Linked DNA regions of Homo sapiens. The protein of the gene in region 1 purifies or fractionates together with the protein of each later gene. This does not show direct contact. Each region holds a gene or a part of one and is shown on either strand. Other genes may lie near its edges.

Region 1 (5,308 bases):
AGTTCCCAGCCTCTAGCTGTGGATTCACTTGTGTCCTGGCTTTCCTGCCTATTAAATATATGACTGCCCATTGACAAATTGTTGGACTATAAGGCCCCAAAGAGTCTGTTTCAACAGAACCTGCAGCGAGAGTGTCAAAGGAAGGGAGCTGGCCGGGAGTGGGATTGGCACCCAGAGCTCAGGGTGCTGGAGGGACAGCCGCATTGGCAAAGATTCTTCTCGTGGCTGAGGCACCAAGCCCAGTGCCGACTGTTAGAGACGCTGAGATTTCAGAGCTGGGGTCTGGGAGGTCATGGAGCCTACCACCTCCTCTCTAGGTGGCGGCCTCAGGAAGCACACATCTTCCACTTCAGCTCCTGTTCAAGATTCCATGTTTCCCAGAGAGGCCTAAATTGGAAGGCTAGGGTCTTCCTCTCGCTAGCCCCTGCCCTCTGGAGGCTGGGGATAGAGTTGTCTCTGAATGGAGCATGGGATGAGAACAGAAGTGTCCAGAGTCACCCCCTGCTGTGCTCTCCAGCCCCAATAGTCCCCTGTACTCAGCATTTCTTGTTTGTATTTACAGATCAATCAAACCCAGTCTATCCGCACCACGTTTCCTCAACACTCACTGATGGCTATTAATCAGCAGGCCGGTGGGGCTGCTCCCCACCGTGTGAGGGTCTTGTTAATGATGGGGAGAAGACTGCCAAATGGCCAGCGTGGCTCCAGATGGATGCAGAAATATGGGTCTTGCCCAGACCAAGGAGGCAAGGGCATCACCACGATCCATCTGGCATGGAACAGAGATCCCTGGTGCTTGATAACAAGAACTGGGTAGGCCTTCTCTCTGCGAAGAATGGTGTTAAAAGTTCTTCCACGTGCCCCCCACCTCCTTTCATGCAGATGATCTGGGAAACTGAAAACAGGGTAAAAGGAGACCTCGGGGGGAAGGAAGGTTACCTAGCTGTTCCTGCATTAAAGGACCTATGAGATGGTCTATAGCAGCAGCAGGAGGGATTTAAGCTAGATGTCCAGAAGTATTTCCCAATGGGAAGGCTGCTAAGCACTCTCCCAGGACAGGAATGTGATCTATGACTCACAGGTCTTATACTCTAAGTCCCCTGCTCAGCCCGCACTATGTTTATATATACGTATGCACAAGCTTGACTTTTCCATAAGTACACACAATTGAGGGAAACTGGTCTAGTATTTATTTGGTGAAACTTGATGTCCTCTCCCCTGGGTGCTGGGTCATGGTGCTGACCAGGCATCGCCTGAATGACTGGATTAGCAGCCATGTCAACAAGCCTTTGCTCTCCAGACAATGTGCCAAGCTGTAGGTAACAGGCTGGGGACACCAAGTCCCAAAGGAATTATAGAGATCGGTAATAGCCTAGTGGAGCACACTCTAAACGCCAAAGGTGTGGCTCAGCAGGAACCTAGCAACTCAGAGGGAGGTGTCCAAGAAGCCGATCACGGAGGCTCCGAGTGGGGAGGGGAGACTGCAGACCCAGCTTGAGGTGCACCTCATGGTTGTTTGGTTTCTAATGGGGGAGTTCTGGGCAGGCCCAAGAGGAGACATTTTGGGGTCCCTGGAACTGCTCTCTTTTCCCAAGAATCTGTCCTGAAATGGGTACCCAGAGCCACAGGCCTGTTAGAACTTGTCACATGGAGAACATGACTTTTAATTAGGGACAAGGTCTTGAGGAAGGGGCCTTCGCAGAGTCTCTTTTGCCCCCAAGAGCCTCTCACAGGCCAAGGATGGGGCTCCAGGAATCCCTAGCCCAGTGGAGAGCAGGGTCAAGGAAGGGGTAAGAGTTCATCCATCTGCCCTGAGATGGCATTTTATCTCCCAGAAGCTGCAGGCTCAGCTGTCCAGGCCCTCCTGGGCCAGGACCTTCTGGACCGAACACAGGCCCCAGTCCTCCTCCCCTGCAGGTCCAGGCTTAATGGTTTTACATGGTGAACAGTTCTCAGGGACCCAAACCTTGAGCCTCCCTGGATTAAATGAGGCTGAGCCCCTGAGTCTAGAAGTAACTGGGGGGCCTCCTTCCACCCTCTACCTCCATGTAGGGCTGCAGAAGAACCAGCAGGAACAAATATGGCAATTTAATTTTTACAGTTTCCAGATGGAAAGAAAGGAAACTTGTTTTAAGGGCTGTATGGCATGATGGTTAGGAACAAAAGGTGAAGGTTTGATTGCTAGCTGTGCCATCTACTAGCTTGTGGCCTTTCACACACGCACACACGCACACAAAAAAACCGTCAAGGATGAATGAGGGTTGATTTGATTCTTAAGGGCCTAAATCATCTGGAGAATGGGGACAAGCAATAACACCAACCTTGCAGGATTGACCTGAAGAATAAATGAACCAATAATATAAAATGCTTGGAACAACACCAGCACGTAGTAAGCACTAAAACGAAACAAACAAACAAAAGAGCTGGCTATTATTACTAAACACCCTTCCGGCAATGGCAGGGTCATCATTTCCACATAGGAAGAGTTTACAGCAGTGAGTACGTGGAAGGAAGATCTTCAAGACTTGTTTTGAAAACCGATTTGCACAGCAAGCAAACTTTTGTTCCTTTTTCAATTTTTTCTTATGCTGTAAGAGGATCACGGACATATTTTCTTCATAGAGTTTAAATGAAATGATACGTATAATGTGCTTAGAACTGTGCCTGTCACTTAGCAAGCACTCAGTAAATCCTACTTGTTTATTTGGGGTGGCTGGAGAGAGTGCTGGAGATTATAATGAAAGATATACAGTAGGGGCACCATTAGGCCCCCACTATGGCCAGGATGCCTCTTGTTAGGAGGTTCTGTTCTGTTCCATAGTCAACATTAGTCTTCCCTGCTATGGGGTAAACTGGCATTTAGACATAAGAATTTCCAGACAATCAATCAGGGTGTCAGACCTGGGCCAAGCTCCCAAGAAAGCTTCCTGCAGCTCTTCCCCCGGAGGTGCTCATTGGTCAAAAGAATGCACATCATGACCTCTGAAAGGTCCTTGCTGCCTCAGGACTCTGACTGCAGCATTTGAGCTCCTGGTCCAAAGACCAGCGCTATCCAGCCCACAATGGATGAGCTGGGTTTATGGCTGGGGAGAGACACGGGAGCTGGAATGTAAAACAAATGGACCGTAAGCACCTTGTGTGCTCTCTCTGGCTGTGGAGTATACAGACACACACTTTCACCTGCTCCCCTGCTCCAGGCCTGGCCTGGCCCCCTCCCAGAGGGGCCCCCCGGATTGGAGAAAGGGTCAGAGGACTCAGGAACACTGGGAGCACTCCCTTTACCATGGTAAGGAGTTGAACACACTATGCTGCCTCTGAAAACAACAGAACAGCAGAGTCAGCCTCGCCCCATTAGCCACCCACTCGGGACACTTTACCTCGTGGATCCCAAAGTGGGCATAGGAGTCGAAGTAATAATCTCTCGAGGTCATCTCCTCTGGGTTCAGCAGCTTGGACATCTTGCCCCGTCCTGGGCAGCTGGGTTGAGTGGACACATGATGGACGCATTGCACGGGCTTAGCAGGGACGACGGGCTGGGGGGGCTGGGAGGGGGGGCTGTTCACCTGAGGGGAAGAGAAGGGGGTCGGGTGTTAGGAGAGACAACGGGGTCCCGCCCTCGGAGGCTTGCGGTCCTCTTTCCTTCCCCCTCCCTGAGCCCGGCCTCAAGCAGCCACAGCAGCCCTTCCTGAAAGGGAGGTAGGTGAGCCCTTCCAGCTCCCAGCAGTTGGGCTCATGGCTGTGATCTGTCCAGAGATGGCAGTCCACCGAGGAGCCACACACACCTAGATTTCACCCACCTTCAGCTCTTATTAGCTAGGTGACCTGAGCAATGCAGGCCTCAGTTTCTGTATCTGTGAAATGGGGAAAATAGTATCTTCCTTTGAAGGCAAATAGGAAACATTCAATAAAGGGAAAGATGCATAGCACAGCATGGTGCCTGAGAGTGTAGATTCCGGAGCTGAATCCCAGCTCTGCCATTTCCCAGCTATACAACTTTGGGCAAACTTATGAACTTCTCAGTGCCTCAGTTTCCTTTTCTCTAAAATGGGAATAAAATGGTCCCTGCCTCCTAGAGTTGTCCTGAGGATTAGACAAGTTTGTATTTCAAAGTGCTTAGAAAAGGGCCAGGCATATAGTAAGAGTTTGTTAGAGGAAACGAAGTCCCACCTGCATCCTCAGGAACGTGAACCCATGGGCTTCTCTCCACTCAACAGGCAGCATCAAGCTAGAAGAGGATACGGCCCCCAAAATGCAGATGTCTTAGGTTCTGGTGTCTCCTACCTGTTGTCTTGCCCCCTAGTTTCTGATTCACAGTTCTACCCTGAATTCAGCACTGTGGATACCCACACTGATGGCCTCCACACAACCAATTATTGCTATTTCTGGGTGCCCCAATCCTGAGGCCCAGCCCAGCTCTACACCCACTGCTGCTGCCCATCACTGTCTGCTCCCTGGTCCTCCACAGGCTAGGCGGAGCAGGGAGAAGGAGATGGGGGTCCACAGAGCTTCTGGAGCCCAGAGACAGCAATTGGAGCCCAGAAGCTCAAACACTGCAACAGAAGCAGTTATGCCAGGAGACCTCCTCTGCCTGGAGTGCAGGAGACCCAGATGTACAAGGCACAGTAAAGGCCTCAAAGCAGGGCTGAACTAGAAAAATAAAAAAAGGAGTATTATCTAGTAGTCAGTCCTCTAGGGCTGGGAATCCAGGCTCCTGGGTCCTATCCTGGCTCTAGTAAAATTAAAAATAGATACTAGGAGGCAGATAGCGAACTGGCTGAAAGTACAAACCCTGGAGCCACAGTGCCTGACTCTGAAACCCAGCGCTTGTTGGCTGTGTGACCTTGGGAAATAATTTGTCATCACTGTGCCTCAGCTTTTCCTCCTCTATAGAACACAAATCATAATAAAACCTACCTGAAAAATTTGTCCAAAAGTTTGGAGGAGTTGATATATGGAAAGACTTTAGAACAGGCTGGCACATAGTAAGTGCTTATGATTATTACATACATCATGTCCTTGTTCTATGTCTCGATTTTCTTGTCTGTGAGCTGGGTCAGCTCAGACTTACTGTCTCCTTTCTAGCAAGAGAAACAGGGGAATCCTAGGACACAGCAAGATCAAGAAAGCCAAGTTATTTCAACCCCTCCGTGGAATCACTCCGCGCAGTCCCAAGACTGTTCTGTGTCCAGGGCTGCAGGGGAGTGAGCTGGGGGCAGTGGGATGGTCCCATCTTCCCAGTGTACCTAGGCTACCGCCCTTGGGAAATAAGCAGACTTCCCAGTTTAGCAACATCAGATTTCACGTCGGT
Region 2 (4,404 bases), on another chromosome or scaffold:
CAATTCTTGATTAAACGTCAGTAGAGCTTAGATTACCCCTTTTGTTGCAATAACGTTACCCCTTTCAATTTAATTTTTAGGATTGGTAGCTTATGTCGATCTTGATGAAAGAGCAATTGATGCTCTCAGGGAATTTAATGAAGAAGGAGCTCTGTCTGTACTACAGCAGTTCAAGGAAAGTGACTTATCACATGTTCAGGTAAGGTCGTTACTCAGAAATGTCTTTGAACAATTAGTAATCTGAAATTATTTTACTATTACTTTTTTTCCTATGGAGAAGTGGTATTTTTTGTTTGTGACTACCTCTTCTTTTAAAAAATTAGTTTAAAGGAAAAAAACTGCTTGTGGCAGAGTTTCAGAAGCCCAAGTATAAAGCAAAAGTTTTCTCCCACCCCCTTGTGCAGTAAGTTATTTTAAAAACTTAAAATTAAAGCCAAGTTTTGATGGTTGTTACTATAGGTTTTTACATGTTACTCAGCTTTTTAACATTTGGGGGTTATTTGATCCTGTTTTATTATCTTGGAGGAAAATGTAGGTGGGAGGAATAGTTTCCGACATCTGGCAAAGACAGTCTAGATACAGTCACATATCAACAAGTGGAAGACTGTGTTTTCCCAGGGTAGAAGGTAAGCTCCCTGAGGTCTATACTGCCTTACTGCTGTCTGCTCCAATCTCTGGCACATAGTAACCACTCGGCAAATACTTGTTGAATGAATCAGTAAATCTTTTGTTAAAATCCTGGTTTTCTGAAATTTAAATTTAATTATGTATCTGACCCTTCAGATATTTTTGGTGATTCTTTTTATTGAATTACTTGTCTGTTCTAGAACAAAAGTGCATTTTTATGTGGAGTTATGAAGACCTACAGGCAGAGAGAGAAACAGGGGAGCAAGGTGCAAGAGTCCACAAAGGGACCTGATGAAGCGAAGATCAAGGTAAAACTTGACTTGGGTAGTTGTAATGAAATTGCATTTAATGATGAGGTCAAATGCCTCTTTCCATGTTTCCTAGAAAGTTTCACTTTTTTTTTTTTTGAGACGGAGTCTTGCTCTGTCGCCCAGGCTGGAGTAGCGGCGCAGTCTTGGATCACTGCAAGCTCCACCTCCCAAGTTCATGCCATTCTCCTGCCTCAGCCTCCCAAGTAGCTGGGATTACAGCCATGCACCACCACACCCAGCTAATTATTTGTATTTTTAGGAAAGATAGGGTTTCACTGTGTTGGCCAGATTGGTCTCGATCTCCTGACCTTGTGATCCGCCCACCTCGGCCTTCAAAGTGCTGGGATTACAGACGTGAGCCACCACGCCCAGCTGAAAGTTTCACTTTTCAAAACTAGTGTTTAGAAATGAAATAATTTAGAGGAATTACATAAGAAGGATAATTTTGGGGATCGACACTCAATTGCATGTTTAATGAAAAGCCCTAATTCATACTCTTCCTCATTCCCTCTTTTGTGGCCATGAATGACGTATATTTATTGATGCTTCGCTGGTAGTTTCTTGGATTGATCCAGTAATGTCTCTTGGTTCAGTTATTTTCCAGCCACTTTGTTTCTTTTCTCTTGATAAAAAGGTTATAACTTGATAAAAAGTTGTTATAACTGCTTTCCTCCTTTTGAATATTCAGTTACCTCAGTTTCTTTATTTATAAAATGGGGATAGTAATAGTGACTACCTTACAGAGTTATTGTAAGGAGTAAATGAATTAACATATATAAAGCACTTAGAATAATGCCTGGAATGTAGCAAGAACTATATAACCATGAACCATTATTATTATTACCATTTTATTACTTAGATAAACAGCTTTGAAAAGGTAAATATACAGCTTTTAATGAAAGACCAGTGAACCTAATTCCTTAGTTAAATGGATACTCGTGTCTTGCTGTAGTGACATACTTTTCTTTTTTTTTTTTTTTTTTGAGACAGAGTCTCACTCTGTGGCCCAGGCTGGAGTGCTGGAGTGCAGTAGCGCCATCTCAGCTCATCTCAGCTCACTTCAACCTCTGTCTCCTGGGTTCAAGCGATTCTCCTGCCTCAGCCTCCTGAGTAGCTGGGACTACAGGCGTGCGCCACCACATCCAGCTAATTTTTTTTTTTTTTTTTTTTTTTTTTTTTGAGACGGAGTCTCCCTCTGTCGCCCAGGCTGGAGTGCAGTGGCGCGATCTCAGCTCATTGCAAGGTCTGCCTCCTGGGTTCACGCCATTCTCCTGCCTCAGCCTCCTGAGCAGCTGGGACCACAGGTGCCTGCTACCATGCCCGGCTAATTTTTTTTTTCTTGTATTTTTAGTAGAGACAGGGTTTCACTATGTTAGCCAGGATGGTCTCAATCTCCTGACCTCATGATCCGCCCGCCTCGGCCTCCCAAAGTGCTGGGATTACAGGCGTGAGCCACCGTGCCTGGCTGCTAATTTTTTTTGTTTTTTGGTAGAGTCGGGGTTTCACTGTGTTAGCCAGGCTGGTCTCAAACTCCTGACCTTGGGGGATCTGCCTACCTCACCCTCCCCAAAGTGCTGGGATTACAGGTGTGAGCCACCATATCCGGCCTGTGATAGACTTTTTTTTTTTTTTTTGAGACGGAGTCTCGCTCTGTCGCCCAGGCTGGAGTGCAGTGGCGGGATCTCGGCTCACTGCAAGCTCCGCCTCCCGGGTTCACGCCATTCTCCTCCCTCAGCCTCCCGAGTAGCTGGGACTACAGGCGCCCGCCACTACGCCCGGCTAATTTTTTGTATTTTTAGTAGAGACGGGGTTTCACCATTTTAGCCGGGATGGTCTCGATCTCCTGACCTCGTGATCCGCCCGCCTCAGCCTCCCAAAGTGCTGGGATTACAGGCGTGAGCCACCGCGCCCGGCTGTGATAGACTTTTTAATTAGAAATAGTTATTGTATGTTGAAGTTATTTCTATTATTATTACATTGTAATATGTAATGAAATAATTATACAACTCACCATAATGTAGAATCAGTGGGATCCCTGAGCTTGTTTTCCTGCAACTAGATGGTGCCATCTGGGCATACTGGTAGATGGTGACAGATCTTCAAGCATTAGATTCTCATAAGGAGCATGCAACCTAGATCCCTTGTATGCACACTTCACAATAGGATTCACCCTCCTGTGAGAACCTAATGCGGCTGCTGATCTGACAGGAGGTGGAGCTCACAGCTCAGGCAGTAATGCCAATGATAGGGAGGATGAGGAGCGGCTGTAAATACAGATGAAGCTTTGTTCTCACTTGCCCGCTATTTACCTCCTGCTATGCAGCCCGGTTCCTAACAGGCCATGGACCAGTACGGGTCTGTGGCCCAGGGGTGTGGGGACCCCTGTTTTATATTACATTTATGGCTCTGTTTCAGTCAAAGGTAGAAGAATGGAAGGCCGAAGGCATGCATCCCTGTGAAATCCTAGTGTTCACTGAACTTGATGATATCTAAAGTCTCTTATTGTTCTGACATTGTGTAATTTTAAAAACCTGGCTGGGCTCTGTGGCTCACGCCTGTAATCCCAGCACTTTGGGAGGCTGAGGCGGGTGGATCACGAGGTCAGGAGATCGAGACCATCCTGGCTAACAACGGTGAGGCCACCTGTCTACTAAAAATACAAAAAATTAGCCGGGTGTGGTGGCAGGCGCCTGTAGTCCCAGCTACTTGGGAGGCTGAGGCAGGAGAATGGCGTGAACCCGGGAGGCGGAGCTTGCAGTGAGCCAAGATCGCGCCACTGCACTCCAGCCTGAGCGACAGAGCGAGACTCCGTCTCAAAAAAAAAAAACCAAAAAAACTGAAGTGTAAATTTCTCTTTTCTAGGTAGATTGTGTTTCTTTGTTTACCATTGTATCTTTTCTTCTCTAAGCTCTTTATATAGATGTTGCCTCAATTATAACATAAATTCCTGAGAGCAAGGAGATTATCTTCTTTTCTATGATTGCTCTTAATACCTAATAGAATGTAAGGAAGGTTGGTAATCAGGAAACACAAGATTTTACTTATTTTTCGGAACCTGACTATACTTATTTGGTAATTGCCAAATATTTTTAGTCTGTACTGTATGATTCTTGTCTGATTACCTGATTCTTGTGGAGCTTATGATATGGCAGGAGTACAAACCAGAAGGATCAAACAAAATCAAGCTTAAATGATGGAACTTTAAGTACACTAGAGGCTGGGTATGGTGGCTCATTCCTGTAATCCCAGCACTTTGGGAGGCCAAGTCGGGTGGATCACGAGATCAGGAGATTGAGACCATCCTGGCTAACACGGTGAAACCCTGTCTTTACTAAAAATACAAAAAATTAGCCGGGCGTTGTGGCGGGTGCCTGTAGTCCCAGCTGCTCGGGAGGCTGAGGCAGGAAAAGGGCGTGAACCTGGGAGGCGGAGCTTGCAGTGAGCCGAGATCGCGCTACTGCACTCC
Region 3 (4,404 bases), on another chromosome or scaffold:
GGGGTGAAGATGCTGGAATTCTTCATTAAAGAAATAGGAATATTTGGGGCTATGGTTGAGAAATTGATACATGTTAATAAAACAGGACAGAGACTTAAATCTTGTCTCAGGGAGATTCTTGAAATATCTTGATTGTTAATTATATTGTGGCTGTTTTATAGTTTTTTGTTTTAACATTTAAATTTAGGGACCAATTCTCATTTATTTTATCTGCTTCTCAATCTTTATTTTGTATACCTTGTTTTGAGAAAATATTACTACATAAATAAGAACTAGTAAGAATGGAAGCAATTTTTAAAAAAATTTTTTAAATGAATATTTTAAAATTCATGATTAAACCTTTCAATATAGTAAAAACTTCTTTGAATAAGATTAATAAGGAGGCTAATCTAACAAGTACTTCGTTTTGAGTAACTCTTAAATCTTTTTGTAACAATATAGGATATAAAAAAGATATTGGCTGGGCGTGTTGGCTCACGCCTATAATCTCAGCACTTTGGGAGGCCAGGGCGGGAGGATTGCTTGAGCCCAGGAGTTTGAAACCAGCCTGGGCAACACAGTGAGACCCTGCCTCTATTAAAAAAAAAATTAAAACATTCTGGCCGGGCGTGGTGGCTCGTGCCTGTAATCTCGGCACTTTGGGAGGCTGAGGTGGGTGGATCACGAGGTCAGGAGTTCAAGAGCAGTCTGGCCAAGATGGTGAAACCCCATCTTTACTAAAAATACAAAAAATTAGCCGGGCATGGTGGCATGCACGTGTAATCCCAGGTAGGCTGAGGCAGAGTATTGCTTGAACCCTGGGGGGCAGAGGTTGCAGTGAGCCGAGATCGCACCACCGCATTCCAGCCTGGGTGACAAAGCAAGCCTCCGTCTCAATAATGATAATAATTTTAAAAAATAGATACCTTACTTGCCCTTGGTGTCTAAAAATTAAAAGAAAAAAAGAGGCCGGGCGCGGTGGCTCACGCCTGTAATCCCAGCACTTTAGGAGGCTGAGGCGGGCGGATCATGAGGTCAGGAGATTGAGACCATCCTGGCTAACACGGTGAAACCGCGTCTCTACTAAAGATACAAAAAAAAAAATTAGCTAGGTGTGGTGGTGGGCGCCTGTAGTCCCAGCTACTCGGGAGGCTGAGGCAGGAGAATGGTGTGAACCTGGGAGGTGGAGGTTGCAGTGAGCTGAGATCATGCCACTGCACTCCAGCCTGGGCGACAGAGCAAGACTCTGTCTCAAAAAAAAAAAAAAAAAAAGATACTTTTTTGTATCTTTATGTAAATACAGAGTGTTTATATGCATAGCTTATATCTGTAAACTGAAAAATTGATAGATAAGAGTTTGCAGAAGACCTATTTTTATTTATTATTTTTATTTGAGAGTTGATCTCACTGTCATCCAGGCTAGAGTGCAGTGGCATGATCTTGGCTCACTGCAGCCTCCACCTCCCAGGCTCAAGCCTTTCTCCTACCTTAGTCTGCCAAGTAGCTGAGACCACAGGCATGTGCCTCCACGCGTAGCTACTTTTCTAGATTTTTTTTTTTTTTTTGTAGAGATGAGGTCTCACTGTGTTGCCCAGGCTGGTCTCGAGCTCCTGAGCTCAAGCAATCTTCCCGCCTTGGCTTCCCAAAGTGCTGGGATTACAGGTGTGAGCCACCGCGTCCGGCCCTATTTTATGTTTAATATTATAAATCCTTAGACATAAAAAGTTGCTAATAAAACTTAGAGGGCATTTTTAAGGATTTACCTTTGTTCCTGACATATGAACACTTTAAAAGCAAGGGAAACATCTTCATCTATGTATTCTCAGCACCTGACATATTGCCTAGAACTTAGAAGATGTTTGGTAAATGTTTGTTGGATAAGTTTCTTTTTTAATTTTATTTTCCTTCAAGGCATAAAAGATCCTTAAGATTCATAAAGTATCACTAGAAAATAGTCTTTAAACCTTTTACTCATAACATCACATATATTTGTGCATGGGGCAAATATAATAAACCATTAGAGAAGCTGTTTTAAGATGCAGTACAAAATTATATGTGATAGCAAGAAAAATTAGAGAAGAATATGGCCTCTCTGTCATCAAAAGTCTAGAGGATTCCAAATAGTGTTCCTGAAGACCCCCTTGATTCTCTTTCTTAAAAACACAATAAAACTTGTTAGAATACATGTTCTTTAGTAAGTGGAGGCATTCACACGTTATAAATAATGAAAAAACACATTAGTATGTTAATTATTGAGCTTTTTTTAAAAACCACATTTATAATGGCTTTATTGATGGGTTTTAGATATCACTGCATAAGTAAATTAATACTAAATTATGATATGGTCTTTTTAAATAAAGCTTGTCCTAATGTTTGGTCTTAGTCTAGAAATTAAGTGAAAAAGAAATTCAGATAGGAGGAATTCTTGAAGTTACAAAAACTCGGATTCTAAACACTTCTTCTTTTCTATTTAGATTGTCTTCAAATTTACAGCACCATTTCAGTTTGTCATCTGTTTATTCACATTACTTTCCTGACACTGGAATTCCAGAAGTGACCACCTGTCATTCCCGAAGTGCCATAACTGTGGATTATATTTTCTACTCTGCAGAAAAGGAAGATGTTGCTGGGCACCCAGGTAAGGAATGCATGTAATCTTAAATTCTCCTAGAGAGCACAGTAGCTAAAACCTCAAGGTTAAAGTTAAGAAAGCTCTCTAAACATCCAGTTGAAGTTCTAGATCTAGAAGGTAAAAATATTTCGAAATAGACAGATTGGTAATATATTTGAATAAATCAGTTGATTACTTGCATATGAGGGAGGCAATAAAACACATCCAAGCAAATTATTACCCAAGAATTACATTAGCAGTCCTACCCTCCAGTTCCAGTCAGCCTCTGAGTTATAGGTCTTTCATATTGCCCTTTCTTTTTGCTTGCCATAAATTTACTGTTTTTCCTGTGACAGGAACTGAGTATGTTGTTAATGGTCATCATAGTTTTGTGCTTAAATTTTACCGAGGCGTCCTGCCTTCATTGGAGGACCATAGTTACACTGCCAGCAACACAGCTTATGCTGTCATGTTGACTCTGGAATATTGGATTTTTCTGAGGAGGAAAAGTATATATATATATATATATATATATATATATTTTTTTTTTTTTTTTTTGGATACAGAGTCTCGCTCTGTTACCCAGGCTAGAGTGCAGTGGCATGATTCTCGGCTTACTGCAACCTCTGTCTCCCGGGTTCAAGTGACCTTCCCACCTCAGCTTCCCGAGTAGCTAAGACTACAGGCATGAGCCACCATGCCCACCTAATTTTTGTATTTTTTGTAGAGACAGGGTTTCACCGTGTTGCCCAGGCTGGTCTCAAACTCCTGGGCTCAAGCCGTCCACCTCGGCCTCCCAGGGTGGCTTGGATTACAGGCATGAGCCACCACATTCGGTCAGAAAAGTCTATATAATTTTTTTGTTTGTTTGTTTTTGAGACGGAGTCTCGCTCGTCGCCCAGGCTGGAGTGCAGTGGCGCTATCTCAGCTCACTGCAAGCTCCGCCTCCCAGGTTCACACCATTCTCCTGCCTCAGCCTCCCGAGCCACTGGGACTACAGGCGCCCGCCACCATGCCCGGCTAATTTTTTGTATTTTTAGTAGAGACGGGATTTCACCGTGTTGGCCAGGATGGTCTCGATCTCCTGACCTCATGATCTGCCTGCCTCGGCCTCCCAAAGTGCTGGGATTACAGGCGTGAGCCACTGTGCCCGGCCGAAAATCAGGTTTTAAACATTAGCCAAAGGATTTAAAGTGGAGAAGAAAATGCAGTTTAAGATTACTGGAAGTACAAAAATACCTTTAAGAAAACTTTGGAATGTGAGCAGCTGTTTTATTCTTTTCTGATTTTTTTCATTTTTTTCTCTTCCATTTTTTTGGATGCTTCTTTTTCTTTACCCTTTTCCCCTCTGTTTGTTCCCCCCTCCTTTCTTCTGGGAATAACCTTATTAGTAACACTCACGAGATGACTTATTCCTGCCACTAGATCTACTCTACAAAAAATATGCCTGCTGCTTTGAATTTATAGTAAGGTTTTCGTAGTTGTCATGCTGACAGAAGTTCACTTGGTGGCAGGAGAGTGTTATGGATCAGCATTTCAAAAAGAGCATGTCATCTTCACTTCTGTGGGTGCTGACTATCTGGGACTAAATTATACTAATTTATTCTCCATTCACCTTATAAACTGCTACAGGGCTGTGGCCCGGTGTCTCTGGCTTTATGCAACTACAGAATGGTTGCTGGATGAGTTTCTTATGTAGTTGTCAACCACAAATTACCCTTAACATTCTTAAGTATTTCATTTATATTTTCTTCTAAAGATTGTTTACAGAGCTGGAAATAGAAAAAATATCTCAAACTGCTGTGTGTTTGATA
Region 4 (3,876 bases), about 42 Mb from region 1:
CTCCTGGGTTCAAGCAATTCTCCAGCCTCCTGACTAGCTGGGATTACAGGCGCTCACCACCACGCCTGGCTAATTTTTGTATTTTTTTAGTAGAGACGGGGTTTCACCATGTTGGCCAGGCTGCTCTCGAACACCTGACCTCAGGTGATCTGCCCGCCTTGGCCTCCCAAAGTGCTGGGATTACAGGCTTGAGCCACCGTGCCTCGCCAAATGTTTTCTTTCATTAGAAAGTCAGTCCACATTATTTAGAAATGACAGGATTAAATTAAGCAATTGGAGATTGGTATTGGTATACTGAGCCTATTAATTGCTATTTAATTTTACTGTAACCAGTGGTTCTTTGTTTCTCTGTCTAAAGAGATTTATAACATGATTTTTTTCACAAGCTTTTTTTCTTTTGATAGATTCTAGCCTAAAAGACCAAACAAACCAGCAAGTTGATGGTTCTCAGCTACCTATAAATATGATGCAACCGCAAATGAATGTAATGCAGCAACAAATGAATGCACAACACCAGCCTATGAATATCTTCCCATATCCAGTGGGTGTTCATGCTCCTTTGATGAACATCCAACGCAATCCATTTAACATTCATCCTCAGCTACCCTTGCATCTCCACACAGGAGTGCCCCTCATGCAGGTAGCCACTCCTACCAGTGTATCTCAGGGACTACCACCACCACCACCCCCTCCCCCACCATCCCAACAAGTCAACTACATTGCTTCACAACCAGATGGAAAGCAATTGCAGGTATGTTTTTAGCAACTCAAGTTTAATCAATATAGCCATTGTAAACATTTAGCTGTTCATGACAGATGTTCAAAAAAAGGCATCCTGGCATTCAAAAACAATTGTTTATTTGATTTCAGTTATGGTAAACCTTCATAATCCCTCTTTCACTATCCTTCTCAAAACCCCCCAACTCCCAAATTAGAAAATTAATTAAATACTTATTACCAAATCCAAGCTACATATATGCTGTTACTTATATCTGAACAGGATTTTTTTATTCATATTAAGTAAACCAAATTATAAGCCAAATTAGAATCGAGTGGTGGGTGCTTTACATTTTTCCCCTGTTTTGCACTGTTTAGGGGGTATATGGGGACGGTGGGAACTAGTGATTAAGTACTGTGATGAAGCTTTTATTGTCTTGTTCAGACAAACACTGGATAAAGCTGTTTATTATCCATTACCATCTGTGTTTCATTTTCATGAATTTATCATGCTAAAAAGAAAGGAGAAGTGCCTCTGTGAGACATAGAAAATTTGAATAATTTGCAAACAATTTGTTGCTTATAATTTTATGACTGCCTTTTAAAAATTTTAGAATCCTAGGCCGGGCATGGTGGCTCACGCCTGTTATCCCAGCACCTTGTGAGGCCCAGGTGGGTGAATCACGAGGTCAGGATCAGCCTGGCCAACATGGTGAAACCCTGCCTCTACTAAAAATACAAAAATTAGCCGGGTGTGGTGGCAAGCGCCTGTAATCCCAGCTACTAAGGAGGTTGAGGCAGGAGAATTGCTTGAACCCAGGAGGCGGAGGTTGCAGTGAGCCGAGATTGCACCACTGCACTCCAGCCTGGGTGACAGAGCAAGACTCTGTCTAGAAAAAAAAAAATACAAAAATTAGCCAGGCGCGGTGATGCATTCCTGTAATCCCAGCTACTCGGAGGCTGAGGCTCAAGAATCACTTGAACCTGGTAGTCGGAGATTGCAGTGAGCCAAGATCGCGCCACTGCACTCCAGCCTGGGAGACAGAGTGAGACTTCGTCTCTAAATAAATAAATAATTAATTAAAATAAAATAAAATAAATAGAATCCTGACAGTAAGATAGAGTTGAAGGAATAGGGAAATTGGATTTTAGTATTTGGGATCTTAATCTTTTTCTCCTGTCAACTTACTGCAAGCCTTTTTTCTCCTGTCAACTTACTACAAGCCATTTGACTTTACTGCCTTATTTTTTCCAGGCTTTAAAGTGAGGGCACTTTAATATTTGTTAATATTCCTAAAGATCCTTGCAGGAAAGATATAATTCTTTAAATGCTATTCTCCTCCTTGTGTTTAGTATTGCTGTCAAAATGTTACAATACATATATATAATTTAAAAGTCATCTTGACATATCTAAATAAGGCCCCGTTTAAGAATGTTACTCATTTTTCTTTAAAGGGCCCTTTAGATATAATTACCTGAAATATGCATTTTTCTTTAGTACTAAGGTTGGTTTGCTTTGTGTTTTTTAATGTTATTTCTAATGCATCACTAAAAGACTTCTATCGAGTACAAGTAATTCATTAACTGATGATAACTCTTTAAAACAGGGTATTCCTAGTTCTTCTCATGTAAGTAATAACATGAGTACACCAGTTTTGCCTGCTCCGACAGCAGCCCCAGGAAATACGGGAATGGTTCAGGGACCAAGTTCTGGTAATACTTCGTCATCAAGTCACAGCAAAGCCTCTAATGCTGCTGTAAAATTGGCAGAAAGCAAAGTAAGTGTTGCAGTGGAAGCCAGCGCAGATAGCTCGAAGACAGACAAGGCAAGTTCAAGGTTGAGAGCAACCTTCATAATTCTGTATATGATAAAGGAGAAAAAATATCAGCTTTTTATTGTATGAGTGGTGAAGGGAATTTCTTATTGGCTGTCTAAATGCCATTATTATTTGAAGGATTCTCTCTAGATGTGTTGATGTCCAGTAAATTACTGGTAATATTTTATAATTGTTTTTAGAAATGTTTGATATGTTTTAGTAAATAAACTGTTTTATATTTGTCACGTTAATAGTTGGAGAGTCTCTTATTGTAAATATGAAGTATTTTCAATTTCTTGTTTGGGATTTTGTGAGAGCAGTATGACTGGCAAATAATAAATTATACATTTTCTTCTCATCAGAAATTGCAAATTCAAGAAAAAGCAGCACAAGAGGTAAAATTGGCCATCAAGCCATTTTACCAAAATAAAGATATCACCAAGGAAGAATATAAAGAAATTGTACGGAAAGCAGTAGATAAAGTAAGTTATGGCTTTAGTGGAGTATGTGCACGTTGTTTTGAACCACCTCTGTTTTAATAAATGAATGCTGAAGTTTAATTAAAATAATAAAAGCTAGCTCCTACTAATTCCTGTCTACTTTTTTGCCTTTTGATTAGTTTGTGTGAGATAATGAAACATGAAAATAAGTCTGGTTATCTCTTTGGGGTTGTTTTTCACAAAGCTTTCTATTTTGGCTTTAATCCCTTTAAGCATGAAAAAAGTTTACCCCCCACCCCTTTTTTCTTAGGTTTGTCATAGTAAGAGTGGAGAAGTAAATTCTACTAAAGTGGCAAATCTGGTTAAAGCCTATGTAGACAAATACAAATATTCACGGAAGGGGAGCCAAAAGAAAACTCTGGAAGAACCTGTGTCTACTGAAAAAAACATAGGCTGAAATGGGGAACGCTGTCAAGGACATTATCAGGATATCTGCAAAGTGCAATTTCAACATGTACCATTAACTGAAAATCATACATAACTGTGATTGAAATTTGGTTTTGATAAAATTATTTTTTTAACATAGGATATGATGTTTTGTTCTAAATAAATATAGGTCTGCACTGCAACTTCTGTATCCTTCCTTCCCCTCCACCCTCCCCCACAAAATTCAAGGGAAAGTAAAGGGTTTAAAGGAATGTGCATCTTTACTAGGACTGTGTTATAGTGTGGATACTGGAAAATGTATAGCTTTTTGATTAGGGCAATGGAGTGCATAAATTAGAAACTTCTAAGTGCACTGGTTTTCAAAGAGATATATATAATGCATTTATTCTGTCAGGTTAAAATGTAAAGTATGATCTTTATGATTTTTTCCCTCTAATTATAGAAAGTTAAATAAT

Evidence for each region. The genes of interacting proteins can lie anywhere in the genome.
Region 2: the proteins of PRMT8 (region 1) and HNRNPR purify together in Homo sapiens (affinity purification with mass spectrometry; 3 studies listed by BioGRID and IntAct, with this or other methods). This does not show direct contact.
Region 3: the proteins of PRMT8 (region 1) and ANGEL2 purify together in Homo sapiens (affinity purification with mass spectrometry; 4 studies listed by BioGRID and IntAct, with this or other methods). This does not show direct contact.
Region 4: the proteins of PRMT8 (region 1) and SCAF11 purify together in Homo sapiens (affinity purification with mass spectrometry; 4 studies listed by BioGRID and IntAct, with this or other methods). This does not show direct contact.

Annotation. Positions count from the first base shown.
Region 1 is NC_000012.12:3,538,861-3,544,168, reverse strand, and holds part of PRMT8 (protein arginine N-methyltransferase 8), read right to left. Parts: intron 3,564-5,308; coding exon 3,378-3,563; intron 1-3,377. UniProt on the Homo sapiens protein: S-adenosyl-L-methionine-dependent and membrane-associated arginine methyltransferase that can both catalyze the formation of omega-N monomethylarginine (MMA) and asymmetrical dimethylarginine (aDMA) in proteins such as NIFK, myelin basic protein, histone H4, H2A and H2A/H2B dimer.
Region 2 is NC_000001.11:23,334,285-23,338,688, reverse strand, and holds part of HNRNPR (heterogeneous nuclear ribonucleoprotein R), read left to right. Parts: intron 1-80; coding exon 81-199; intron 200-827; coding exon 828-935; intron 936-4,404. UniProt on the Homo sapiens protein: Component of ribonucleosomes, which are complexes of at least 20 other different heterogeneous nuclear ribonucleoproteins (hnRNP). hnRNP play an important role in processing of precursor mRNA in the nucleus.
Region 3 is NC_000001.11:212,995,368-212,999,771, reverse strand, and holds part of ANGEL2 (protein angel homolog 2), read left to right. Parts: intron 1-2,453; coding exon 2,454-2,617; intron 2,618-4,404.
Region 4 is NC_000012.12:45,921,603-45,925,478, reverse strand, and holds part of SCAF11 (protein SCAF11), read left to right. Parts: intron 1-404; coding exon 405-751; intron 752-2,324; coding exon 2,325-2,543; intron 2,544-2,896; coding exon 2,897-3,016; intron 3,017-3,284; coding exon 3,285-3,431; 3' UTR 3,432-3,876. UniProt on the Homo sapiens protein: Plays a role in pre-mRNA alternative splicing by regulating spliceosome assembly.